Linked DNA regions of Homo sapiens: region 1 is linked to region 2. Evidence: fine-mapped expression QTL. Tissue or cell type: whole blood. Region 2 holds a variant in brackets; the other region holds the start of a gene. Each region is shown on its reference strand, or each on the opposite one.

Region 1 (16,774 bases), not on the chromosome of region 2:
TGCCTGTTTGATAGCTAAGTAGAGATGTTGAGTAAACAGTTGGATATGTGAATCTGGAGTTCTGTGAAAGTTTGGAGCTTAAGTTAAAATTTGGGGTATGACCTATTTCTTATTTTCAGAAGAAACTCTTAACACCATAATTAACACAGAGTTAACTTTTATTACAGGAAAAACCATATGGCATAGTTGAAAAGAAGTCCAGAATATTCCCTGTAAGTCTTAACACTTCTGATTTTTCTTTTGTTTATTGTTTTTCTCTTTCCTTTTCCTCCCTTTCCAAGCAATTATTAGATTAAAATGTTCTTTCCTTCTCACTTTCGGTTTAAGTCCCTGTTTTGTGTATTCTTGTAAAAAACAAAACAAAACAAAAAAAAACAGGAAGAAATACCGTGAGGTAACAATTACAGTTCAAATGGGAAGTGAGCACATTTATTTTCAACCTGGCTGTAAAACGTGTTTTGTGACCTTGATTTTCCTAAAGGGAGTTGAAAGTACCAAAAGTTTTTCACTGTGTCCTGTTTCATGTTGGGTAAAGAGCTTAGGGCATGAGCCTAAGCAAACATCCATGCATGGTGACAGCAACTGAATTTCTGTTATTAATTCCAAACTCTCATGTCCTATGGCTTTGTACCTCATTTTCAAGATTTGACCTTAAGTTCTCCATCTGTGAATTTAATATCCACTAATGGGTGTTTTAAATTTTATACTATGGGCCAGGCACAGTGGCTCATGCCTGTAATCCCAGCACTTTGGGAGGCCAAGATGGGTGGATCGTGAGGTCAGGAGATCGAGACCATTCTGGCTAACACGGTGAAACCCCGTCTCTACTGAAAATACAAAAAATTAGCTGGGCGTGGTGGCGGGCGCCTGTAGTCCCAGCTACTCGAGAGGCTGAGGCAGGAGAATGGCGTGAACCTGGGAGGTGGAGCTTGCAGTGAGCCGAGGTTGCGCCACTGCACTCCAGCCTGGGTGACAGAGCGAGACTCCGTCTCAAAAAAAAAAAATGTATACTATGAATGTGTGAGCTATAGTACTAATTTGAAATGAGTTATTTTAGCATTAAAAGGTGACTCAGTAGTCAGTTGGTATTTACTAGCTGTTTGTGAGGTTATTGTTTAGCATAGTAGAATACATACTATGTTCTTGTCTATTTCTAGTCACAGATAATGAACTATCATAACTCAAAAGTACACAATTTAAATAACAAAAGTGTGATTCTTGCTTTAATCAAATGACTTAGTCACAGTAATGATTATCTGTTGCAACAGGGGAATTTTAGGAAGGGCCACCAAAACTGGCCAGCGGTCCCAGTTGGAACGCTGGTTTAAGAAATAGTTGGGGGAGGGGCCAGGCGCGGTGGCTCACGCGTGTAATCCCAGCACTTTGGGAGGCCAAGGTGGGTGGATCACAAGGTCAGAACTTCGAGACCAGCCTGGCCAACATGGTGAAACCCCGTCTCTACTAAAAATACAAAAATTACCGTGCGTGGTGGCGGGCACCTGTAATCCCAGCTACTGAGGATGCTGAGGCAGGAAAATTGCTTGAAACTGGAAGGCGGAGGTTGCAGTGAGCTGAGATCGTGGCACTGCACTCCAGCCTCAGAAATGAGTGAAACTCCATCTCAAAAAAAAAGGAAAAAGGAAAAAAAAAAGTAGGGGGTATCGGGGGCTCATGCCTGTAATTACAGCACTATGGGAAGCCGAGGTGGGTGGATCCCTTGAGGCTAGGGGTTCGAGACCAGCCTGGCCAACATGGTGAAACACCATCTGTACTAAAAAAAAAATACAAAAATTAGCCAGGTGTGGTGGTGCACGCCTGTAATCCCAGCTACCTGGAGGCTGAGGCACAAGAATTGCTTGAACCTGGAAGGCAGAAGTTGCAGTGTGCGGAGTTTGCGCCACTGCACTCCAGCCTGGGTCACAGAGTGAGACTCTGTCTCGGGAAAAAAAAAAAAAAAAAGTGGGGGCCAGGCGCGGTGGCTAACACCTGTAATGCCAGCACTTTGGGAGGCAGAGGCAGGTGGATCACCTGAGGTCAGGATTTTGAGACCAGCCTGGCCAACATGGTGAAACTCCATCTCTACTATTAATAAAAATACAAAAATTAGCTGGGCATGGTGGTGCACGCCTGTAATCCTAGCTACCGGGGAGGCTGAGGCACAAGAATTGCCTGAACCTGGGAGGCAGAGGTTGCAGTGAGCCAAGATTGCGCCACTGCACTCCAGCCTTAGCGACAGAGCACCCTGCCTCAAAAAAAAAAAAAAAAAAAAAAAAAAGTAGGGGATTTCTCCTTTTGTTTTATTGTGTAACATTGATGTGTGTTACAGCCTAGGTAGTCTCAAAATAGGAAATTATCTTGCTGGTTTTTCCAGCTGGGCAATTTATATTTATTTAGTCTTCCATTTATTCCATTTAAATGTTAATTTATTTTGCCATTTACTGTTCAAAGGAAAAGGAGAGCTCTATTCAGAAGACCATATCAGGGATCCTGTAGCATTTCTCATATTTCTGTATTTTTTGCCACTGTGGTTCTTTCTTGTTTCTGTGCCATGACCCCTTTGAGGAACTGAAGAATGCTCATTGTATATATGTTTAGAATAGGACAAGTAATAACAAACTTCCAAATCTCAATGGCTTAACAAAACAGAGGTTTATTTCTTGTTGACATCACAGACTACTGTGAATCAGGTGATCTTCCTCAATCTTACAGCCGTGCCTATCGAATATGAGGTTCCAAGATTGTGATACAAAGATACGGCAGGATGTCTCAGGGGATGATTTTTAGGATCTAAGCTTAGAAGTAGCTTACATCACTTCTGCTCAAATTCTGTTAGCTAAAACTCACTGTCATCTTCCCAAATATTATCTGTGTGCTCTTTGCTATTTCCCAGACCCCTGTTCATGGAGTTTCTGCTACATTCCATCTTTCTAGTCACCAAACAGCTCTTGGCTTCTTTCTTTACCCATGCATAACACACTTAGTCTCTCTCCTTAGGGAGAAATCCCAAAGTCCCATTCCATCATTGCACCCCGGCCCCAAATCCATGATCTCCAGATGATGTAAAATAGTATGTCAGGTTTATATATGACTTCTGTTGATCTGAGGATCAGTGAACTAAGAAGACAAGTTAACTGTATCCTTGTCCCCCAACCACACCCATTGTTCAGTGGTAGAATTTGGATAGCATAGTAGTCACTGGTTCTTGGCAATCCTGAAATCTCACTCCTAACCCGTGTGTGAGAAATTACTTGAATGGGCACTGATTTTGTTTTCTTGAAAGAACACCTTTATCCATCGTTCTTCCTGGTTCCTGGCTCTGTCCAGGGGGTTTGTTCTTTTCATTATCTACCTAGACCACATCTAAATGGTATTGGGAAGCATGCCCTCCTTAGGGGGCTGTATGGGCTTCAGAATCTGCCACCTGCTTGCAGGAGGTTGAATGCCAGAGGTTGTTTTAATTTCAAACATTCTGGCAGGATTCTGTAAACTATATGTTTGGTTTGTCCATCCATTTCCCTTAACATTTAGAAGCATGAAAAGAAAAATATTTGGTAGACATCTAATGTGTTTACTTCTAGTCAGTGTCTCATGCCAGTATCTGTTTTTCCTATACACAGTTACCAGCTTGTCTCATTTCTTTGTCCTTATGCATCTGCCTCTCTCACCTCTGTGGCAGCTATGTGGAGGCCATCTGAGGCAGACTGGTTCAAAGGCTACCTTCATTTTAAACTGATCTTTGCCATAGGGCTGTGTCCCTCTGTTTGAGTTTTATTGGGCTTCTGTTGCTCAGATTTCTTGTGTTAACTTATTGTTTAGGAATTCTGAAGTAGTGTGATTTTTCAATACCACAAGGTCCTGATTTTTTATTTATTTTTTAGATACAGGGTCCTACTCTTGCTCAGGCTGGTTTTGAACTCTGGGCCTCAAGCAATCCTCCTGCCTTGGACTCCCAAAGTGCTGGGATTACAGGCATGAGCCACCATGACTGGCCCAAATTTTTAGATTCTATTAACTTTTTTTTTTTTTGGTCAGGAACAGAAAGTCTCTAGCGTGCACCAAAGTGTTCTCTCGTCCTCTCCATTTTTATGTCGCCTCTCAAATCAGCCACTTTTTGCCTGAGCTCATGCTTCTTAAAGTACATTCCCAAGGCATCCAAGGATCCCAAGGATCCAAACACATACTATAACTTTTTTTCCCAGCTACTTCTTCTAGAACCTCAAGTTCATTAGGCAGTCAGCTTCCAAGTTATAGGAGATATTTTGCTAAATAGTTTGCCACTGCCTTTTGTTTCCATCTTTATCTTTGCTACCAGACTGCTAAGCCAGTGCCCTATAGCTTGATTTTTATTACAGCAGCATTAGTGCCACTTCAAGGCAATGATTTCTATTGGGATAATGCTAGCTGTACTAACAAATTGTTGCCCAAATGTATAATGGCATAAACATATTTATTTTTTCATTGGACTATAATCCTGAGCAGTACCAGGTCAGGGAATGGCAGGGATTGGGGTGGGTATGGGGACAATTCTACTCTTCCCAGTCATTCAGGGACTGGCAGGCTAACAGAATCTATCTTAAACACATGGCTGAAACTGAAATTGAATAATCTGTCTTAAAACTATACAGCTTGTCAGTGGAGGTTCCAAGATTCTTACCACTTGGTTCTGGCTTCAATGCCCATGCCTTTTTGCCCACATCTATATCAAGAATTGAAAAGACATCTGGACCAGCTGCCTAGCCAAAGTTTGTATTCTGTATTCAGTATGTAAGCCAATCAGAAAACTGGTGATTGCGTAACACATTCAGTTGCTGGGGGTACATTACCTCCTTATCTGGAACTGCAGATGTTTCCTTGCAACTTCTTTCTGGGGCCTCCATTTATTGGGGTCATACAAAATAAAAGATTATCCCTTTATCACTTAGAGAACACAATTTTCGTGCCCTTTTTGATTATTTTGTTTCTGAGTGAAAATTTCCCTATTATTTCACTATACCTTAAAATTTTGAATACTGATTGTTCAGATTTAGTCAGCTTCTACTTTGTCTAGGGTCCTTTTAAAGGGAATGCCAGAACTCAAGTACATTTTCCATGTGAGATCTGATGAACATAGAACAGAATAGAACTATCACCTCTGTAGACTTAAGATTTTTGTACTAACTGTATCTTTGTTTTCCTAGGGTGATACAATTCTGGAGACTGGAGAAGTAATTCCACCAATGAAAGAATTTCCTGATCAACATCATTAAAGATTATGTAAAAAGTTAAAAGGCTTATGAGCCTAAGTTTGTTCCTATATTACCATATTTACTGAATTTTCTGGAAAAGTAACTTTAATAAAGTTTAATCTCAGAAATTGTCATATCTGTTTTCAAGCATTGTACAATTTGAGACTGAGTAATTTAACAATAAGTAAAAAGTGGACATGCTAAACAAATATGAGAGACTACCTACTTTTTCTGGTCATTCTTGACTTGGAAAACGGTATGGAAAAGTATTTAGTTACATGTTTGTTTGTTTTTTTCTTACACAGTACTTACACTAATTTGGTATCAGGGTATGCAACAGTGAAATATCACAATAAACAAATGTAAGAACAGCAATTCCATGCACTTTTGTTTTAAGGAAATCTTTCCGGCCAGGCGCAGTGGCTCATGCCTGTAATCCCAGCACTTTGGGAGGCCGAGGCGGGCAGATCACGAAGTCAGGAGATCGAGACCATCATGGCTAACACAGTGAAACCCCGTCCCTACTAAAAATACAAAAAAATTAGCCGGGCGTGGTGGCGGGCTCCTGTAGTCCCAGCTACTGCGGAGGCTGAGGCACGAGATTGGTGTGAACCCAGAAGGCGGAGCTTGCAGTAAGCCGAGATAGTGCCACTGAGCCTGGGCGACAGAGCAAGACTCCGTCTCAAAAAAAAAAAAAGCTTTCCGAATCATTTTTGAAGAATTTAGAAACTTGATTGAAAAGCTTATTCCAACTATGATCTGACACTCAAGACTGTCAGATTTAGGTTGCTGTTAATTTTGTCATGAGAATGTAAAATACTAAAATCTCTAAGTGAAAAATTTGCATACTAGTGCTTGTTATAAAGGATAATGCAAAAATAAACTTGGGAACTTTGCATTATGAATTTTATTTTTATATCTACATAAGCATGAGGGAAAGAACTGTATTTTCAGATAATTAAATCCAGAAGAGTTACAAATTTTCATTCGTCCCAAAGATTTTGTCTGGGTATTTCTTCCTTAGCTGTCGTCTTGCAGACACCATCGAAGCATAGATGATGCAGCCCCAGGAGATTAAAACGATGGCAAGCAGCAACTAAACCAAAAATCGCAAAGGAGGTGTGAAATCTACCTGATATTTCCCCTCGCCCCCGTCAGGTTACCGTTGCCATTGCTAAGGTGGGAATTAAAGTAACAAAGTCGAATAAATGGGGTTCCAGTGGCGGGTACACCCAGCAGCCCTTACGTAAGAAGCGGAAGATCGTATCCTCCAGGAAGAGGCGGAGTCGAGGTGAGGGAGTGAAATGCTTAATTCAGGAATGGATTTTGGAGTTTCTGGGTGCTGAAGAAATAGGGCCTTTCCGCCTGCGGGCCCAGTGAGTCGACACGGTGGGGGCCCGCGATCCCCGGGACTTACCACTGAATAAATCCAGTCCAGCGTGCGACGACTTACTGGCTTCATGGTAAGGAGGCGGCAGCAGTCCGCGGGAGCTGGCGGGAGCTGCGGGCCTTACAGTAACCTCCCAGGCGGTGGCTGCCAGGCGCCAGCAGCCATCTTTTAGCCGGGCACGAGCGCCCGCCCACTCGCTTCGTGCAGCGCTGTCGCTGGCCTCTTCCGCCCGGAGTTGGGGGGCGGTATCACGTGATCGGGGGCCTTGCCCGCCTTTTAGAGAGGGGAATAAACGAGAAAATGTTAAAAATTGCTTTTTTTTTTTTTTTTTTGCCAACTAAGGAGATAGGCGTACCTCCACTGGTTTTCTTTCTAGTTGCAATGCAATATTAATGCAGGATAAGGTGCTGTCGTGTCCATTTAAAAGTTAATTTGAAAAACAATCCACGTTTTAAATATTACGTCTGGCTCTAAAGCTGGAAGAATTAACGCTTTCTCCCCCGCTCCCTCCCCCACGCCTCCCCGCATCTGATACCACACGATTTAGATGGACGTTCGCCTGTTCATCTTTGACGTAAAAATACCACCCACTCTTTTATATGTGACAAATCGTTGTGGGAACCCCTGTAAATCGAGCCATTCTTCAGAAACGTATAGCGTAATGTATATCTCTAAGAAGAAATACGTGGGACGCGTTACCCGCCATAATGTATCAGTCAAGCAACAAGTGTTTGTTGAGCGTGTCTGATGTTCTTGAACTGCCGCGCGTGAGATACTAAGCCCCGAGCACGGCAGTTTGGTGGGCGAGCGTACCAGGTTCAGCTCTAGAATGTTTGGGGCGCTCACATTTGAGGCCTGAGGAGTAGAATCTGGCAACGGGCCGCTTAGGCTCTAGACGTTCTTTATACCTCGCAGTTATCTTAAAAGAGTTTTAGTCTAGATTTCAGGGAGTGGGAAGGGGAAGAGCGGAGAAAAACGTGGTCTGTTTAGGGAGGAGTCCAGGCCCTGTTTTGTTAGGTTGTCCTGTTTCTCCCCAGCCTGGAGGGGATCCCTCTCTGAAGACTTTATAGGATACTGGTTGGGCTCTGGTTTGGGATCCCGTTGGACTCCTGGTGTTGCTTCCGGGAGGCGTACAACAGGAGGTGAGAGACTTCAAGTCCATCTAACAATTCCCCTATCTAGACACTAAAGATAATTTCCTAAGTTTCCGCAGAGTTTGGTAAGGTTGAAACGACATCGAACTAGTTCTCGTGTTTTCCGGGTAAGTTAGGGGCGAACATTCAGTCAGTGTCCCCAGTGGCTGAGTACCAGTAACAAGATGGGGAGGGTCGCGCTGCCCTCCTCCGGGGTCTGGAGCGGCGGGGGAGGGGCCGCATTTGGGCCGGTGCGCTGAGCCCCGCCCCCGAGGCCGGCGTCCATCTGCTGCGCATGCGTGAGGAAGGCGGGTGTTGTGTTTTGATGCGCGGGAGCTGGGGGGTGGGTCTCGCTCTCTGCCCTGCTTCCGAGCTGCCATTGGTGATGAGCCCTTTGCGTCACAGGGGTCGCAGCCGCCGCTGGGGTCTCCGCTGTCTCGCGAGGAGGGTGAAGCGCCCCCGCCTGCTCCCGCTTCGGAGGGTAGGCGGAGAAGTCGCCGGGTACGCCTTCGCGGATCCTGCCGACACCGACCTAGCTTTCTGGGCTGCCGGGAGCTCGCGGCGAGCGCCCCAGCCAGGCCTGCGCCGGCATCCTCCGAGGTGAGTGAGATTCGGAACAATGGGACGCGGGGGTCGGAAGGGCCGTGGGAGTTGGCGCTCCCGCCTGGAGCGGCGCCTCGGGACCCGAGGGTTGCGGTCATGGCCTGCGGGGCTGTCCGGGCCTCGGCGGGCCAGGGCCAGGGCCCCCGAGCGGCTCCTGCGCGCACCTGTGGATTGGTGCGGGCAGGCGAGGGTTGCGCTTCCCACAAGCGCTCCCGAGGGGCGCGAGCCTGGCCGTGTACTGGAAAGAGCTTGGTCTCAGGGAAAAGCAAAAAAGCAATGAGACTGAATCGTGGCGTCACCACTTACAGGATATGTGACCTTGCCTAGGTCCCTTAAATCCCTGAGCCTGTCTGTAAAATGGGAATAACAATATTTAAGTTCGTTGTGGTTATGTAATGCTCATGGTGCTTATCTTAGTCTAGTGGCAGTTCTGAACCAAAGTAAACGACTATCACCGTGGCTTTGGGAGTTGGGACTTGTCTGTGTTGTGTTAAACATTCTGAGCAGAAATTGCCCGTGACTTGTTCATCCATCCATTTACTGCAGCTTTCCTCATGGGTTGCTGATTGTAGGCTGGAAGGGGGCAGTGCTGAGATGAGCCACATAGTGATTTAAGAGGAAAACGGAGTAGACCTTTTGATAGGTAATTTTCAAGATTATTTAAGATAAATTAAGAAACAGCTGCCCAAGATTTAAGTTAATAGTGGTGAGAGCTTTCTGGGTTTTGTCCATGAAATGCAAAGAAAGCTATACAATCAGCTAAAATCAATCATACTTGTCTGGAATGAGTGGTTTTAGAGGCGAACGGTTCCCAGCCAATTCTTTTTGCTGGAATTGGATTAAATTTGATAGGATCTGGATAAATTTGATAGGATCTACTGAGATCCTGTGACTTTTGTATCTTCTTTTGGAGTTGATTAAATGCAGTTCAGAGAGGTACAGTGATTTCTTTAAGGTGGCAAGAGGTAGGAACCAGTTTATTTTTAATACTTGGGTGATCTTTCTATTTCATCTATTCGTGAACCCTTTTTAGTCACTTTGCCTAGAAATATTAAGTATAATAATTATATTAAGTATGATGATTATTTTGTTGTTATAAACTATCCTCTGTCTGGACCCATATAATCAGTTATGGGTGATGAGCTACCGAAATTCACTTCGTGTTCACGTAACATAGAGAACATTGTTGAGTTCTTACTGTGCATCAAGCACTGTGCTAAGGGTTTTTATGAAATATGTCCCGTCACACAACCACCTTTTCAATTCCATTTTAGAATTGAGAAAACGTGAGATTTTGAGAAAAAACTTCCTCCAGGTTACACACCTACTAAGTGGTGGCGATTCTCAGCCTTGGCTCTGCAGCAAAATTAACATCACTCCCGCAAATGTAATCAGCAGATGATTAAATTTTATATACAGTGTATGCCATAGATGACTTTTGATTTTTATTGATTTATTTTTTTTGAGACGGAGTCTTGCTCTTTCGCCCAGGCTGGAGTGCAGTGGCGCAGTCTCGGCTCACTGCAAGCTCCGCCTGCCAGGTTCACGCCATTCCCCTGCCTCAGTCTCCCGACTAGCTGGGACTACAGGCGCCCGTCGCTACGCCCAGCTAATTTTTTGTATTTTTAGTAGAGACGGTTTCACCGTGTTAGCCAGGATGGTCTCGATCTCCTGACCTTGTGATCCGCTCACCTCGGCCTCCCAAAGTGCTGGGATTACAGGCATGAGCCACCACGCCCGGCCATAGATGACTTTTGTAGTAAGTCTAACTTTAATTCTACAGAGCAGTTATACTTCGTTTATATCATTGTGCAGTTTTTCAAATATCCAGTCTCCTGAAATGTAGATTCGAGCTTCCTGATTCTTTATCTCCCCCATCCATTTTCCCTAGACGTGTGTCCATATTAATTAGCTGAAATTTCCCCGAATTGTTATTATCCTTGTTAAAGCCAGATTTGAGGATTTTTCGGGAAAGGGAAGTTTTGGCTTAATCAGTTTATACTAAAGATGGTGAACTTCATTTAGGATTTGGGAGACAGTTTAGGAAGTGTGACTGGAAGAACTGATTGTCTCCTGTGAGGAAATGTCCTAATTCCTAGAGTGCTAGGATGGAAAACCCGTAACACAGGCTTCTTACAGAACCTGAAGCACTGTGTTTTTCATCGGGTCTACCTTTGCTACTTAAATTCAGAACGTCTCTTGCAGATCAGCCACTCTTTTGTGTGTGTGTGTGTGTTTGTGTGTGAGGCAGAGTTTCGCTCTTGTTGCCCAGGTTGGAGTGCAGTGGCGTAATCTCGGCTCACTGCAACCTCCGCCTCCCGGGGGTTCAAGTGATTCTCCTGCTTCAGCCTCCCGAGTAGCTGGGATTCCAGGCATGCGCCACCACGCCCGGCGAATTTTTGTGTTTTTAGTAGAGACCGGGTTTCTCCATGTTGGTCAGGCTGGTCTCGAACTCCCGACCTCAGGTGATCTGCCCGCCTCAGCCTCCCAAAGTGTTGAGATTACAGGCGTGAGCCACCGCGCCCGGCCAGCAAATCAACCACTCTTAATCTGTATCTAGTCATCCCAGTTTTTATGCCTTAATTTGTATTTTTAAACAGCTTTGTTAAGATTACATTCCGGGCTGGGCGCGGTGGCTTACGCCTGTAATCCCAGCACTTTGGGAGGCCGAGACGGGCGGATCTCAAGGTCAGGAGATCGAGACCATCCTGGCTAACACGGTGAAACCCCGTCTCTACTAAAAATACAAAAAAAAAAAAAAAAAAAAAAAATGCCGAGCGTGGTGGCGGGCGCCTGTAATCCCAGCTACTACTGGGAAGGCTGAGGCAGGAGAATGGTGTGAACCCGGGAGGCGGAGCTTGCAGTGAGCCACGATCGCGCCACTGCATTCCAGCCTGGGCGACACAGCAAGACTCTGTCTCAAAAAAATAAAATAAAAGATTACATTCCATCCATAAAGTTCACCCGTTTAAAGTTTGTAGGTCAATGATTTTTTAGTATATTTACAGAGTTGTACAACCATCACAATAATTAATTGTAGAACGTTTTCATCACCCCAGAAATAAACCTCTTTACTGCCCCAGCAGCAGCCACCAGCCTCATTTCATCTCTCTAGATTTGCCTATTCTGGACATTTCATATAAAAGGTATCATACAATATGTGGGTTCTTGTGAATTTTTTTTTTCATTCATTTAGCATAATAAAAAGTTTCATCCATGTTACAACATGGTACCAGTACTTTGTTCCTTTTTATTGCCAAATAAAATTCCATAGTGTGGATAGACCACATTTTATTAGTCTGTTAATCAATTGATGGGTATTTGAGTTTCTCCTTTTGAGGTATTATGACTAAAGTTGCTGTGAATATTCATATACAGTTTTTTTGTGTGGACAAGTTTTCGTTTCCCTTGGGTATATCTAGGTGTGTAATTGCCGGGTCATATGTTCGACTTCATTTGCGTTTTAAAAAACATTTTAATTTAGTATTTAGTGATGATTTTGAAGAGCTAATAACTTATTTGATCTACATGCATTCCAATTGTTTGATGTTTCTTTTTCTTTTTTAAAATAGAGACTGGATCTCGCTTTGTTGCCTAGGCTGTTTCAAATTCCTGGCCTCAAGGGTCTCCTGCCTTGGCTTCCCAAAGTGATGGGATTACAGGCGTGAGCCACCGTGCCCCGCCTCTTTGATGTTTCTGATGAAGACTGTTTGTTTGTTTGTTTGTTTGTTTTGAAACAGGGTCTCATTCTGTCACCCAGGCTGGAGTGAGGTGGTGCAATTATGGCTCACTGCAGCCTGGACCTCCCAGGCTCAGTTAATCCTCCTGCCTCAGCCTCCTGAGTAGCTGGGACTACAGGTGTGCCCATCATGCCCGGCTAAGATTATTCTTTTCAGCTAATGATTCCTGTGTAGAAATACAAGAATGAATTCTAATTTATTATTATTTTTTAACCTGTTATGGAGGACATTACCAGTCATTCATTCACCTTTTACTGTCAAAGTGGTTAACAGGCTTATAAAACTAGAGAAGGGAAGGGTAAGGTTTCATTTTTTTAAAAAAATCATACTTTGTTGAGATTTTATTTTATTTGAACTTCAAGTTTACTACCTAATAATTCCCTTTAATAAATTCATTTTCAGCTGTAATTTTTATGTGAACTGGAAGTGTTCAGAAAACACTAAAATTCTATTTCAGAGAACTAAGTGAAGATAAAATGTATTAACTTGGAATTCACGGGTCTTTTTTCCAAGTCCAGTAATCCCTTCATTATATAGAGGAGAAAACTAAAGTCTAGAGTAATGTGGTTTTCTTCACATTAACTAGAGCTAGTTCTAGGTGAAGCCTGGTCTTCAGTCCAGATCTTTTGATAACCTCTTTGATTCCCTCCCAACTTTTCTCTGTTCCTTCCCTCTACCACACACACAGTCTCTGAACTGAAAGGTTTTTATTTTTATGTGTGTGTTTCTTTAAATTTCTTGAGTAGGCAGATTAAAAAATGTTAAAAGTAGAGGGAAATGCTGAGAAGGTTGTGCAGTATTAGGGTTTTAGACTGTTTATGAACAAAAAAGCAGTATTATGTATTTATAATCCTGCTTTTCCAGACCTTCCAGGACAGTGATGATGTTTTTGCATTTTCAGTCCAGTAAATAGAAGACTAGACATACCTGGACCCCTGAAGAAACGCTTATTTAGCATTAATTGATTCTCTATTAAGTTATGGTTCTGAGAAAGCCAAGATGCCCTAAAGTGAGCAGGTTTAATATGAAAGCTATGGTGGAATACTTGTATTTCAGTCATGAGTTTTTGTTGTGGGTTTTGTTTATTGGTTTTTCTTATAGTTTGTTAAGGCCAATGAGTCTATTTAGAAAATTACAATTCTGTTATTTGATTAACTTGACCCCAGTTGACTAGTGATGGAACCTCCTGTGATAAAGGAGGTGGAGGAAGATGAATATTAGGCCCTGGGAAACCAAGGGCCTAGTAGTTTTTTGTTGTTGTTTGTTTATTTGTTTTGAGACAGAGTTTCACTCTTGTCACCCACTGCAATGGTGCAGTCTCAGCTCACTGCAACCTCTGCCTCCTGGGTTCAAGCGATTCTCCTGTCTCAGCCTCCCAAGTAGCTGGGATTACAGGTGCCTGCCACCATGCCCGGCTAATTTTTGTATTCTTAGTAGAGACAAGGTTTCACAACGTTGGCCAGGCTGGTCTTGAACTCCTGACCTCAGGTGATCTGCCTGCCTTGGCCTCCCAAAGTGCTGGATTACAGGCATGAGCCACCGCGCCTGACTCCCCAATAGTCAATATACTCAAAATGATTAGTATAAAATGCAGCTTTGGAGTTTATGAGATAAAGTCAAAACGCATACTAGATTTCAAGCTCTAGCAAAGTTTTGAGCCAATGTAAACTGATAAAACAAACTAATCTTTAATATTCTAGTCATCCTTATGGGAAAGGATAATAGGGAAGGGGACCAAAAACATGATTTCAAGATATTCTGTGGCCTGACTTTTGGATTAAAGAAAAAAGCTAAAGGAAGGCTTATTAGGAATGCTGAATGGAATGAGTGATTAACTGAATATAATAGTGTAGTAATAATAACAGCTGACATTTACTCAGCACCTACTGTGAGCCAGGCACTGCCTCTTGGCTGCTTTTTCATTTATTATTTAATCTTCACTAAAAGTTTCCTCTCCCTTTTTAAAATTAGCTTTCTAAGGTTGAAAAAAGAATCTTTCACTAAAAATCATAGGATTGGTTTAAACAGGTGAACTTTCTGGTATGTAAGTTATGTCACCAAAGTTGTTTTAGAAAAGTACATACAAAATATCACAGATAAATCAGTAGTCTGTATTGTTAGTGGCATATGTATATGAAAGGTATAAAGCCATGCATAGAAATAACATCAACTGAGGAGTGTGGTGTTTTTGTTTTTTGTTTTCTAGAGAGTGATAGGAGGGGAAGATAAGGGGCATAACATAAGTGGTGGATACATGGGTATTTGGTACTTTTTTTTTTTATATGTCAGATATTTCTCAAATTATTTTTAAAAAGAATAATAGAATGTTACATAATATTTGAGAGCTTTACTATGTAGCAGGTGCCTTTTCTAAGGGCTTTTTACATCTTCACAAACCCTGTAAGGCAGATTCTGTTATCACTGACCTGCAGATGAAATTAAAGCACAGAGATACTAACTGGCACATAGTCACGCTGGTAGTGTGGAACCAGGATTCAGTCTTAGGAAATCTGACTTCAGAGCTTATGCTTTAAGCACTATATTACTATGCTACAGTGCCCCTTTATAAAATAAAACAAAAGTAATGGGTCACTTAAGTATTTTCACCAAAATAAGTTTCAAGGTCTTTATTTGCATTTTTGTTGAGACTATTTAGTCATTCCTCTATTATCAGGTTACTGATATATTTCTTTCCCTTTTACAGATAATGGCATCAGCTGCTAAGGAATTTAAAATGGACAACTTTTCACCTAAAGCTGGCACTAGCAAATTGCAACAGACAGTACCAGCTGATGCATCTCCTGATTCTAAGTGTCCTATATGCTTGGATAGATTTGATAATGTGTCTTACTTAGATCGCTGCTTACATAAGTTCTGTTTTCGCTGTGTACAGGAGTGGTCAAAAAACAAAGCTGAATGCCCACTATGTAAACAGCCCTTTGATTCTATTTTCCATTCTGTGAGGGCAGAAGATGACTTCAAGGAGTATGTCCTAAGGCCTTCGTATAATGGTTCTTTTGTCACCCCTGATCGACGATTTCGCTACCGTACAACTCTGACAAGGGAACGAAATGCTTCTGTGTATTCACCTAGTGGTCCTGTGAACAGAAGAACAACAACTCCACCGGATAGTGGAGTACTGTTTGAAGGGTTAGGCATTTCAACAAGACCTAGAGATGTTGAAATTCCTCAGTTTATGAGACAGATTGCAGTAAGGAGGCCAACTACGGCAGATGAAAGATCTTTGCGGAAAATTCAAGAACAAGATATTATTAATTTTAGACGAACTCTTTATCGTGCTGGTGCTCGAGTTAGAAATATTGAAGATGGTGGCCGCTACAGGGATATTTCAGCTGAATTTTTCCGTAGAAATCCAGCTTGCCTTCACAGATTAGTCCCCTGGTTAAAACGTGAACTTACAGTTCTTTTTGGAGCTCATGGATCTTTAGTGAATATTGTCCAGCATATTATCATGAGTAATGTTACTCGCTATGACTTGGAGAGTCAGGCATTTGTGTCTGATTTAAGACCATTTTTACTTAATCGAACTGAGCATTTTATACATGAATTTATCAGTTTTGCCCGATCTCCTTTTAACATGGCAGCCTTTGACCAGCATGCCAATTATGATTGCCCTGCTCCTTCATACGAAGAAGGCAGCCATTCTGATTCTTCAGTCATAACAATATCTCCAGATGAGGCTGAGACCCAAGAGCTGGATATTAATGTAGCCACTGTTAGTCAGGCACCATGGGATGATGAAACTCCAGGACCATCTTACTCAAGCTCAGAGCAGGTACACGTTACTATGTCTTCTCTTTTAAATACTTCTGACAGTTCAGATGAAGAACTTGTCACAGGAGGAGCCACGTCTCAGATACAAGGAGTACAAACCAATGACGACCTAAATAATGACAGTGATGATTCTTCAGATAATTGTGTCATTGTTGGGTTTGTTAAACCACTAGCTGAGAGGACCCCAGAACTTGTTGAACTGTCCTCTGATTCTGAGGACTTAGGTTCTTATGAGAAAATGGAGACAGTGAAGACACAAGAACAGGAGCAATCTTACAGTTCTGGTGATAGCGATGTTAGTAGATGCTCATCTCCACACTCTGTCCTTGGAAAGGATGAACAAATAAATAAAGGTCATTGTGATTCTAGTACAAGAATCAAATCAAAGAAGGAAGAGAAACGATCTACATCATTGTCATCTCCCAGAAACCTGAACTCATCTGTAAGAGGAGACAGAGTATATTCTCCATATAACCATAGACACAGAAAGAGGGGAAGATCAAGAAGTTCAGATTCACGTTCTCAGAGTAGAAGTGGGCATGATCAGAAGAATCATAGAAAGCATCATGGGAAGAAAAGAATGAAAAGTAAACGATCCAGAAGCAGGGAAAGTAGCAGACCTAGAGGGAGAAGAGACAAAAAGAGATCAAGAACTAGAGATAGCAGTTGGTCCAGAAGAAGCCAAACTCTGTCTCTAAGTAGTGAAAGCACAAGCAGATCAAGGTCTCGTAGCAGTGATCATGGTAAAAGAAGATCACGGAGCAGAAATAGAGATCGTTATTATTTAAGAAATAATTATGGAAGCAGATACAAATGGGAGTATACTTATTACAGTAGAAACAAGGACAGGGATGGGTACGAATCATCTTACAGGAGGAGGACTCTGTC
Region 2 (11,402 bases):
AATCTCGGCTCACTGCGACCTCTGCCTCCCAGGTTCAAGTGATTCTTGTGCCTCAGCTTCCTGAGTAGCTGAGATTACAGGTGCCTGCCACCACGCCTGGCTAATTTTTGTATTTTTTCATAGAGACAGGGTTTCACCATGTTGGCCAGGCTGGTCTTGAACTACTGACCTCATGATCCACCTGCCTCAGCATCCCAAAGTGCTGGGATTATAGGCGTGAGCCACCGTGACCGGCCATCTCCTTCCTCCTTCACCACAATCACCAAATCAGCCCCTAGGTGTTTTTGGTATTCAGATTTCATTTAAAGAAAAAGTTTTGATGGCAACAAATTGTGCAAACTTCTCTACACACTCCACACTCAACACACACACATTGACTGATGACATTCATTTTGTTGTGTGCTGTCTTTTATTCTTCTCATATTCCAGAAGCTCTGTGTTAAGGTAGTTTACAGGCATGTCACTAAGTCCCTAGCTCTGCTGCTCTGAGACCATCTTAATAGTCGGGAGTACTGTTTGAACATTATTATAAAGTACCTACTATAACCTTGAACTCCTGGTCTCAGGTGATCCTCCCTTCTCAGCCTCCCAAGTAACTGGGATGACAGGAATGTGCCACTACACCTGGCTAATTAAAATTTTTTTTTTTTTTTGTAGAGACAGGGTTTTGGTATGTTGCTCAGGCTGGTCTCGAACTCCTGGCATCAAGTGATCCTCCCACCTCAGCCTCCCAAAGTGTTGGGATTACAGGCATAAGCCACTATGCCCAGCCTAGAAGTATTTTATAGGATGAAGAAAAGAGTCGTAAGACAACTATTCATCTAAGACACAGATGTTCTCAATACAGGATCTAGTAAATCACTACTTCATTTTTGCCATTAGAAAGTAGATGTAACTATTGTGATATCATGCCTGTTTGCTAGCACCTTTCTGAAAGTGCACTAAGCCACAGAGGAGGAAAGCAGTCCCTTGGCTTCCGTCTACTTGGATGCATGTGATGTGTGTGGCACACATGGCAGAGCTGTGGGCATCTTGCTAGCTGTTGAGCTTTGGGATCCATTCTGATTGCTTCTCCCAAATGAGGCAGGGGGCATCTCATTTACACGGATACAAACATTCCATTGCCTTCTTTTATTGCTCAATACTTTATTCCCACTGATGATATCAATCACGTTGTTGTGTTTAGTTGTGTATACTTCTGTTAGAGTTCCTTGAGAGTCAGGCCTGTGCATTATTTATCTTTGCAGCCCAAGTACCTGGCATATGCTTAGCACACAATAAAATAATAATTCAATGGGAACTGAATATATGAGGTTAGACTTCACAAGTCACTTGCCCTACCAGTTACTGTATGTTTAATTATTCAGTCAACAAGTATGTGAGAGCTTTCTATGTGTGAGGTACTACACTATGCACTGGTCATATAACTTCTGAATGGGCTGTAATTCAGCAAAGAGCCAAGCCTAGTATGATTCAGCAGGAACTACCAGCCTCTTAGTGGAAAGGGCTTCTTGGGGAATATGTACTTTTCTCTCTTCTAAAGAGTAACTTATGGGGCCCAAAACTTTCTCTCCTTTCATTCTAGGGCTAGGAAAGAAAGGGTAGAAGGCACATGACATACTTAGGTCCCACCCTCATCACACTCAACAGAATATCATACTAAGAATCAAATAATAAACTTTAATTTGAATATAATACAGTAGAATATAATAATTATTTTGAGGTACAAAAATAATTATAAAATACTTTTCCCATTTGCAAGTAATGTATGCTATAGACTATAAATAGTACACTGATGCCAGAAACTGTACATATTTCACTACATGCCTAAGTCTGGGTCTTCCTCTCTCCTCCATCATCACATGTAAGAAAACCAGCTATGCAATACTACTTTGCAATCTTGAAACTCTGTTAAGACATTTCAGAAGTAGCTATCTTTAATAAAAGAATTAGATGGTACCTTTCTTTAAAATAGTATGTATGTTTTTTGGCTCAATCCTATAGATGAAAAAGTTTACAAAAATTAGATTTCTGCCATTTTTGGAATATCTGCTTTTTTTTCCCAAAAGACAGGAAAATGTCAGAGAGAATCTAGAGTGCTGAATTCAACACAAGCTCATTTGAAAGTAAGTCTCCATCAATGGAAAAGCTTTTTGACTATAGGCAATTTGAAAATAATAGCAATTCACTGGAAGACAAATTTCACTGCCAAAACCTGCAGACGAGTTCTCCCTGTCTTTTCTATTACTGTGTTTCCTAATATTTTAAGTGAGGTAAGAATTACAAGAGTGATTCTAAAAATTATAGCAGGTTCTACCCAGATGGGACCCATCTAGTTCCTAAGATGCTGAGAGCCATTTATTATTTAAAAAGTAGGAACAACATGAGGAAACAGAAGCTTTGGCATATGAAAAAAGATGTAGCTTTGCTTCCTAGAATTCAGTTATTTAGGCCAGTTTATTTTGATTTGTGCTCTGAACTGATTATATATGGGTCTAAAGATAAAAGACAGAAAAACTGGCCATCCTCATGAGTAGAGGTGAAATAACCCCTTGAGACAGTCCTGAAGGTGAAGGAGATCTTCAGTCATCGATCTCTTCTTGGCTGCTTCCACTCCTGCCATTTTCTCATCTCCTTTCTATACAACTCCTTCATCCACAAGTGGAGTGCTGGGATAAATGGAACAACTAATACAGTGCCTACGGGGATTTTCCTGACTTCAGTGCTTGAGGAATTCTTTCTTTCAGTTCTCTTCCCATCTATTCTCTTCTAGGTAGGGATGGCTCTGCACTTTCTAGACCTGTAACACTAGGTACCTTAAACTAATAGAAAAAAACTATATGGTGTAAAAACAAAGGTAGTATAAAACATAGAAAGATGTGGGTCTCTTTTCTGGAAATAGGTTGTGAGCTTAAGAATGCTCAGTTGTATGTTATAAGAGCTCAGAAGCCTGGGGCTGGAATATGACTTACGACAGAGAGCCTAGCCATTAGGAGATTCCCTCAAAGGACTTTATACGATTCATGTTTTATTATCGTTACATTAATAAGTGCCCACAATACATATAAATCACTGTAGCCCTACTTTCAAAACTGATGTTTGGGCCAGGCGCGGTGGCTCATGCCTGTAATCCCAGCACTTTGGGAGGCTGAGACGGGCGGATCACGAGGTCAGGAGATGGAGAGCATTGTGGCTAACACGGTGAAACCCCGTCTCTACTAAAAATACAAAAAATTAGCCGGGCGCGGTGGCGGGTGCCTGTAGTCCCAGCTACTCAGAAGGCTGAGGCAGGAGACTGGCGTGAACCCAGGAGGTGGAGCTTGCAGTGAGCCGAGATCGCACCACTGTACTCCAGCCTGGGCGACAGAGCGAGACTCCGTCTCAAAAACAACAACAACAACAACAACAACAACAACAACAAAAACTGATGTTTGTTAAGCAAGATACATTAACAAAAACCTAACCTGCTTTGTTACCTAAAATAATTATGGTACCAAACTATAATGGACTAGTGAGATTCATAAACATTGTTTCTTGAATACCTTTAGAGGTACTACAATTTTTTTCATAGTACTCACCTTTTAAAACATTGCAATACTCATCTTACTGCGCTGTAACATGTTATTATCATCAACAATTTAATTACTGAAAGAGTAATCCCATAAATCTATCCTATTAATGACTGGACAGTTTGATAAAGTAGCTTACTGCCTTTCTTAGAAACACATAGCTAGTTATTCTCCCAAGATTCAGAGATGACGTTATAAAACCCTTTATGGAATTCCCCAATAAAATGGGATAACGTACAGAGACGCCTTAAAGTTAAATGATACAATGATGCTGATTCTTGAACATCAAAGATGTTTGTTATTGCAGCCAGGAGACAATGCCATAAAATGCTAACAAAAAAAAGTTATACTGTTTTCCTTAAAGTCAGTAAATTGCATAAAAGTACTCTGAGCATTTTTGGAAGAAA[G/C]GCACCAGATAAGTCCAAAATCTTATTGCTACTAGGATCATACAGGGTCACAGACTATGGCACTCTGTTCAGCCAGGAGACTAAGTCTCAGCAAGTCAGTCTCTGACCTTGAGGCTTAAAGAGCAAGGAAGGAAAATGTCAATAAAACAGAGCCCTGTATCACAGATTAAACTGGAGTGAAAATGATTTCCAGTTTTATGTCAAAGTAGAAGCTGGTTCCTAGGACGCTGGCGCTATTTTAGATGGACACTCTGTTTTCTTTGGCCCATTTCTTCATGATCCGGATCATGTATTCTACTTGGGTGTTACCTGTGCTTCTCAGTAAATGGAGCACTTCTCGAAGGGTCTCTCTGAGGAAAAGATTTGAAAAGACAAAGTGTTTCAATGAAGAATGAAAATTAAAAAATAAAATAAACTCTGAACTGTCCTTCATACTGTATGTCTTGTAGGGCATTTTTGGTAATAGACTCTTTCACTGTGTATTCACAAAGCAATTACAAACTGCCTAGCCTTATGTTCTTATTGTGGCATAGTAAAATGGAAATTATGTGAAATCTTTCTTGCCAATCCAAGTGTTCCTTGTTTATCCATACTACCTATATACATACTGATAATCTTTTTGTCCTTTCTGAGATGACCTAACTATTCCCATTTCTATTCTTATTCTGCATGACTAGAAAGAGTATATCCAGAAGTTGGGGTTCAAGTTCTAGCTCTAACACCAGCAAGTCACTTAATTTGTCTAACTCATGGATTTCTCCCTTGTTTAAGGTGGTAACCACCTTCAACTAGGCATCATTGTCAAATTCATAAAATTTTACAAAGCCAAAGGAATAAGGGATTTTTTCAAGAAAAATAATACATGAATAAAATGGAAGAGATGGACATTAAGGACTAAGCCTAGCATTTATATTTGAAGTAATTTAAATTTAATTAAAATTAAAACATATTTTAAGTAATGAATGCTAAAATTTCCTTATTGCCCTAGCAAATCTGTAGGCGACTGCCTATGAACCTATTTGCTTAAGAGTCTTCTCATATTTTCTACTTCTTTTTCCCCACAAACAACCTCTTTCACCTAACCAAATGTTTTTAAACTTTTACTTAGAACTAGAAGTACTATAAGGTAGGAAGTAATTTTTGATAGATTATTTTCTTACAAAATTAACACATTTCCTATTCATGTATCAGTAATAAATACATTCCATGAAGTTATTTTTAGAAAATGGAATCGAGTTGTGTTTTAATGTTTGTTTCAAATGAAACTATAGGCTGGGCATGGTGGCTCATGCCTGTAATCCCAGAACTTTGGGAGGCTGAGGTGGAAGGATCACCTGAGGTCAGGAGTTTGAGACCAGCCTGGCCAACATGGTGAAACCCTGCCCCTACTAAAAATACAAAAATTAGCCAGGCATGGTGGCACGTGCCTGTAATCCCAGCTACTCAGGAGAGTGAGGCAGGAGAATCACTTGAACCCGGGAGGCAGAGGTTGCAGTGAGCTGAGATCACACCATTGCACTCCAGCCTGGGCAACAGAGCAAGACTCTATCTAAAAAAAAAAAAAAGAAAGAAAGAAAAAAAAAAAGAAAAAGTATAAACCACTGAATTTTATTAATTTTATGTAAACTAATGTCTCAGTATTTCCTAGAATATGAGAAGGTGAAAGAAAACAAAAGAGTTATCAACCACATCTACTCCATTCCTAATTTTTTGAGACCTAAACTAAAGCACACAAGAAAAAGCCAATAGGCAAAAAACAAAAAACAAACAAAAAACCCAAAAGAGTAGAAGAGTAAAAAAAAAAAACACTTTGCCTATAAAAATGGCTGTTCATTTGGAACCAAATATACATCCTGCTCTTATATTTGGAGGCTGTTAGTGTACTTAATGTATATATGACTTAGAATGATCTGATCCTATTATATATGATTTAGAATTATCTGATTCTACAAAATGAAAGATTTCTGGAGGAAAATGGTCAGACAGAAATATTTAATATCAACCTTTTTTTCATCATTCTAAAACATCATTATAATCATGTGTTTTCAGAAGATATCATCCAAGAGAACAAGTATTTTCCCTCACAAACAAGCAAATGAGTAGAGGTAGTATTTCTTGCCTGTTTACTTACTTGGGTTCTCTCCCAGCTATGATCATCTGGAAAATGCCCACACAGGCACCCCGTTTGCCTTCCCAATATTCAGGGTTAGGATCCAGCCTCTCAAGGACATCAAAAGCTTTGGCAGAATAGTAAAACTGGCCCATCTGAATAAGAGAACGTATGTGGTAATACTTGCAGTAAAGAGATTGCACAGAAAGAACCTGAACATAAAGATAACATGAAACGGGACTGTATGAAATAAGTGCATGGGTGCTGACAACATTTTCAGTTAGCAAGTTAGAAAAACTTCAATTCCCAATTAAAACAATAAGAAGGAAAATTACAGTTTGGGTACATGGGTTCAGTTTAAACTACCTTATGTTCACTCAGTTTTCAACAGTATAACATTTTTTCTACATAGAGTCAAATTATGCTACAATCAGCACTTTTTTTTTTTTTTTTTTTTTTTGAGACGGAGTCTCGCTCTGTCGCCCAGGCCGGACTGCGGACTGCAGTGGCGCAATCTCGGCTCACTGCAAGCTCCGCTTCCCGGGTTCACGCCATTCTCCTGCCTCAGCCTCCCGAGTAGCTGGGACTACAGGCGCCCGCCACCGCGCCCGGCTAATTTTTTGTATTTTTAGTAGAGACGGGGTTTCACCTTGTTAGCCAGGATGGTCTCGATCTCCTGACCTCATGATCCACCCGTCTCAGCCTCCCAAAGTGCTGGGATTACAGGCGTGAGCCACCGCGCCCGGCCACAATCAGCACTTTTGCCTTTTCTTCTAATTGTCTTCTAATCTTGAGGATAAACTGAGGATTGTGATTTGAACTGAGTATTTTTCAAGTCTCTTCAGTACATTCTTTTCAGATGACTACTATCATTCATTTTATGCTAATTTGATCATGTTCAACTCCAGGATGGTCTTTCCCTAGTCTTGTTCCTAAATTCTCAGAATGCTTAGATGTATACTGACTACTATTCTAAACACTAAATCTTTTAAATGTTTAATGCATTTTGACAGACATTTTTCCCAAATGTACTACACATTTCCTTGGCCTCATAGAACATGTTGAATGCCATTAAATTTTGCTTAGATTAGTTTTCTTTTATTTAAAAAAAATTTTTATTCTTTTTTTTTTTTTAGAGATAGGATCTTGCACTATTGCCCAGGCTGGAGTGCAGTGGTGCCAACATGACTCACTGTGACCTCAAATTCCTGGGCTCAAGAGATCCTCCTGCCTTAGTGTTCCAAGCAGCTGGGACTACAGGTGTACACCACCATGCCCAGCTAATTTTTAATTTTTTGCAAGACAGGCTCTCACTATGTTGCCCAGGTGGGTCTCAAACTCCTGGCCTCAAGTGATCCTCCCACTTTGGTTTCCTAAAGTGCAGGGATTACAGGCTTGAGCCACCGCGCCTGGCCAGATGAGTTTTCTTACTTGGCAATCATAAATACATACTGTTACCAATTTCACTTAAGGCTTCAAATTGCTGGGCAACTCTCTTTATGGTTTAGTTACTTCTTTATTCCTGACAGATGTTTTTCTAAATCTTTGACAATTTCCTTAAGACAGCCTTCTTAGCTTAGCCTTATTCTGTACTTCATAGGGAAAACACAACTTTCTTCTCTTCAGTTCAAATTATATTTACACCTTCATTCTTCCTTTCCTCCTTTCTGCCTAATCTCACGCGAAGATTTTTTTTTATTTTCAAGGTTTGTCCTTCTATTTATGTACTCTTTTTAAAAAAAGTCTTTATTGTGAAATAACACACATACAGGATGGTAAATGAAACATCCATGTACATCTTACTAATTATAATGTGAAAATACTGTAAACACTACCCAGGTCAAGACACTGAGAGCAACACAAAAGCTCTCTGTGTGTCACTTCCAGACCATAACTCTCTCTTTCCATACCCAGAGGTAACTACTCTTCTGACTTTTATGTTCTCTCTTAAGTATACACATCTTTAAACAATATAATTGAGTTCTGCTTCTCAGAACTTTATATGAACGAATACTGTAAATATTCTATTATGTCTTGTACCTATGATTCAACATTATAAGACTCACCTATATTGCTGTATATAGCTCTAGTTGATTCATTTAAAAAATTTTTTTATTTTGAAGTATTAATAATTATAGATCCATGGACAAAGATAGGACAGAGGTCATGTGTACCTTTCACCTAGTTTCCTCCAAAGGTTACAGCTTAAATAAGGATAGTAAAATATCACAATATAAAAATCAGGAAATTGACACTGGTACCGTGTATGTTGATGATGGTCCTGTTATTTCATCCTATGTGTAGATTCACGTAACCACAGCCATACAACTATCAAGATACCGAATTACTCTTTTTTTTTGGACACAAGGTCTTGCTTTGTCATCCAGGTTGGAATGCAATAAGGCAATCACAGCTCACTGCAACCTTGAACTTCTGGGCTCAAGTGATTCTCCTGCCTCAGCCTCTTGAGGTAGCCACCATGCCCAGCTACTTTTTTTTTTTTTTTTGAGATGGAGTCTCGCCCTGTTACCCAGGCTGGAGTGCAGTGGCGCGATCTCGGCTCACTGCAAGCTCCACCTCCCGGGTTCACGCCATTCTCCTGCCTCAGCCTCCTGAGTAGCTGGGACTACAGGCGCCCGCCACCACGCCTGGCTAATTTTTTGTATTTTTAGTAGAGACGGGGTTTCACTGTGTTAACCAGGATGGTCTCGATCTCCTGACCTTGTGATCCGCCCGCCTCAGCCTCCCAAAGTGCTGGGATTACAGGCATCAGCCACCACGCCCGGCCTGCCCAGCTGCTTTTTAAAAATGTTTTATAGAGACGATGTCTCACTATGTTGCCCTGGCTGGCCTTGAACTCCTGGCCTTAAGCAATCCTCCTGCCTTGGCCTCCCAAAGTACTGGGATTACAGGCATAAGCCACCGTGCCTGACCAAGATGCAGAACTATTATATCACCACAAAGATTTCCCTTGTTACCCTTTTACAGTCACATGCACAGCCCTCCCTGCTCACCATCCCTAACATCTAACAACCACTAATTTGTTCTCTATCTCAATAATTTTGTCATTTCAAGAATGTTACATATATGAAAGCAAACAGTATGGGACCCTATGAAACTGGCTTTTTTCCTTCAGTATAATGTCCTTGTTATTCCCTGTTAATTCAAGTTACTGTGTGTTCCAATAGCTTGCTCCTGTTCTGGTCACCCTGCAAATGCAACAGGGACTCCCAACCAAAGTTTGGTTTGGATGGTGAAACTGATGACGCCACACACACACAGCAAGAGGATATGAAACGTTTTCTTACATACTTGAAGCCTAGGGAGAGTAGAACGGCCCTATTAAGCAGATCTGAAAAGGCCTGAGAAAGCAAGGAAAGGAGACTGGCCTTGGTGTTTACTGTGGTTAGGAGGTGGGGCCGTGGTGAAGGTTCCTGTGCATGGGCAGGGGCTTGTGTGGTTTAAATCACCCTATGGTGCCAAAGAAGGGAGCACGTAGGTTTTCTTATCATTTTGTCCAGATGCGGGGCACAACGGGAAGAGGCAGGGGTGAGGCTTAAAAGCTGTCAGCAGTCAAACATCCAGAAATGGAGTCAGACTTCTCATTATAGTTCCTTTTTATTACTGAGTAGTATTCCATGCCAAACCCATCTGTTTAACCATTCACCTGCTGAAAGACTTTGTCTCCAGTTTTAGGCTATTACAAATAAAGCTGCTATTAACATTTAAATATTAAAATTTGTGTTATTAACATTTATATATTTCTGTGGATATAGGTTTTCATTTATCTGGGATAAATACACAGGAATGCAATTGCTGGGTCATATGGTAAGTATGTTTATTAAAGAAACTGCCAAAGTATTTCATGGTTGGTTTTTTTTTTTTATCCTTTTATTTTTGACCTATGTAAATATATTTAAAGTGAATTTCTTGTTGAGAACACATAATTGGGTTATGTTTTTTAATCCACTCTCTCAATAGATGTCTTTTAATAGGCATACTTAGACCATTTACATTTAATTATTGACATGTTAGGGCTTAATTCTGCCATTTCCCCCCTTATTCTCTTTGTTTTTCTTTGACAAGGACCTCACACATATGCTTGATAAAGACTTGACTGTGTGATCCCCACAAAAGGAAGATAAGAAAACCTGTATTTGGCTTCTCTAGCCTTCACCTACACCCATCGTTTTCCTGCTGTTCCTGTAGTGTAATAAATTTTAGCCATGAGTATAACTTTATGTTGAGTCGTATGACTCCTTCTAGTAAATCACCAAACTAGTGGGTGGTCATGGGACCACTGAGACAGTAGGTAATGCCAACTTGTTTTTCAAGTAGTTATCTTCCTTTGATGTTAACCCTATTCCCCTCTCATCTCCTCAGGGCCTAACTCCATCAAAAATGCCCCATCCTCCTGAATCTTTAATCTTACTGTTCAATGGCTCATTTTCTTCTGCCTACAGATATACTCCCCTATCCCCATTCTAAAAGAACTCTCCACCCCATCCCCCGCAATTCCAAACCCTGATTTTCCATTTAAGTTAGCACTACATTTTTCCTTCTTATTTTTAATATCAAATTTTTTAAGACTGTGGTCTACATTACACTAGCTGCATCTGCTTTGTAATCTGACTCTATTCTCTACCTCTTACTGTCTTCTCAGTCCTCATGCATTTCTATCCAGTTGCAGATTTGACACTCTCCTGCCTTGGTTTTTGATTAAATGGGAGCAAGAAAAAGTAATGAAAAGCATTTTTTTTCCTGTCCTCATTGTTTTCCTTCTCTTCTGTTCATCCTCTCTTTCATTTACTCTTCCTTCTCTTTCCAGCCCTTAAACACTGGTTTCCACAAGGTTCCTCACCCCATTTACTGGCTAATCTTATTCTCTCTCATACTTGGCTGTTGCTGCTCCTGCTGCTGCTACTACCACCACTAACTACGGTTAACTTCTAAATCTACATTGTTAACTACTAAATCTACATTGCTAATCTTGATGAATACCAAAGCTCCAAGCACAGCCTGTTAATTTCCTACTTCTGTTATCTCTGCTGGGAGCCTCAAAGACACTTCAGATTTAATACATCTAAAACTGAAATAATTTCCTGTCTTCTAATGTTTTCCTTCCCTCTGCCTCCCCTAACTTATTTAAGAGCATTGCCACCCACCAAGTCATGTTAAACTGTTATTTTTAAGTTTCCTATGTCTTAAAGTATTTTCTACTGATGGTAATTCACCTCTTTTTTTGGTAACGATTCACTTTGAAATGAGCTTTTGTTGATTAATTTAATACGAGTTTCTCTTTACCTGACATTTACC

The links. PIP is the estimated chance that this variant, and not a neighbour inherited with it, causes the effect.
Region 1: it holds the start of TOPORS, and the variant in region 2 is fine-mapped to the expression of TOPORS in whole blood (TOPMed, PIP above 0.99).

What each region holds. Positions count from the first base shown.
Region 1 is chr9:32,542,348-32,559,121 of GRCh38, reverse strand. It overlaps TOPORS (TOP1 binding arginine/serine rich protein, E3 ubiquitin ligase), which reads left to right and starts at 6,536. Exons shown (of 3, transcript NM_005802.5): 1 at 6,536-6,688; 2 at 8,154-8,348; 3 at 14,796-16,774. The coding sequence starts at 6,686. It overlaps SMIM27 (small integral membrane protein 27), which reads right to left and starts at 6,795. Exons shown (of 2, transcript NM_001387564.1): 1 at 6,643-6,795; 2 at 6,115-6,321. The coding sequence starts at 6,687. The coding sequence ends at 6,199. It overlaps NDUFB6 (NADH:ubiquinone oxidoreductase subunit B6), which reads left to right. Exons shown (of 4, transcript NM_002493.5): 3 at 168-212; 4 at 5,178-6,121. The coding sequence ends at 5,246. RefSeq lists enhancers at 6,048-6,761, 6,566-6,895, 6,906-7,115, 6,762-7,476 and silencers at 7,756-7,975, 8,476-8,535.
Region 2 is chr7:139,182,245-139,193,646 of GRCh38, reverse strand. It overlaps IFT56 (intraflagellar transport 56), which reads right to left. Exons shown (of 18, transcript NM_024926.4): 17 at 6,108-6,241; 18 at 1,661-4,326. The coding sequence ends at 4,215. Among named protein-coding and RNA genes, the nearest start is that of UBN2, 43 kb to the left of the region's middle. RefSeq lists enhancers at 9,430-9,724, 10,263-10,862. The variant G/C (reference allele first, on the strand shown) is at 3,977.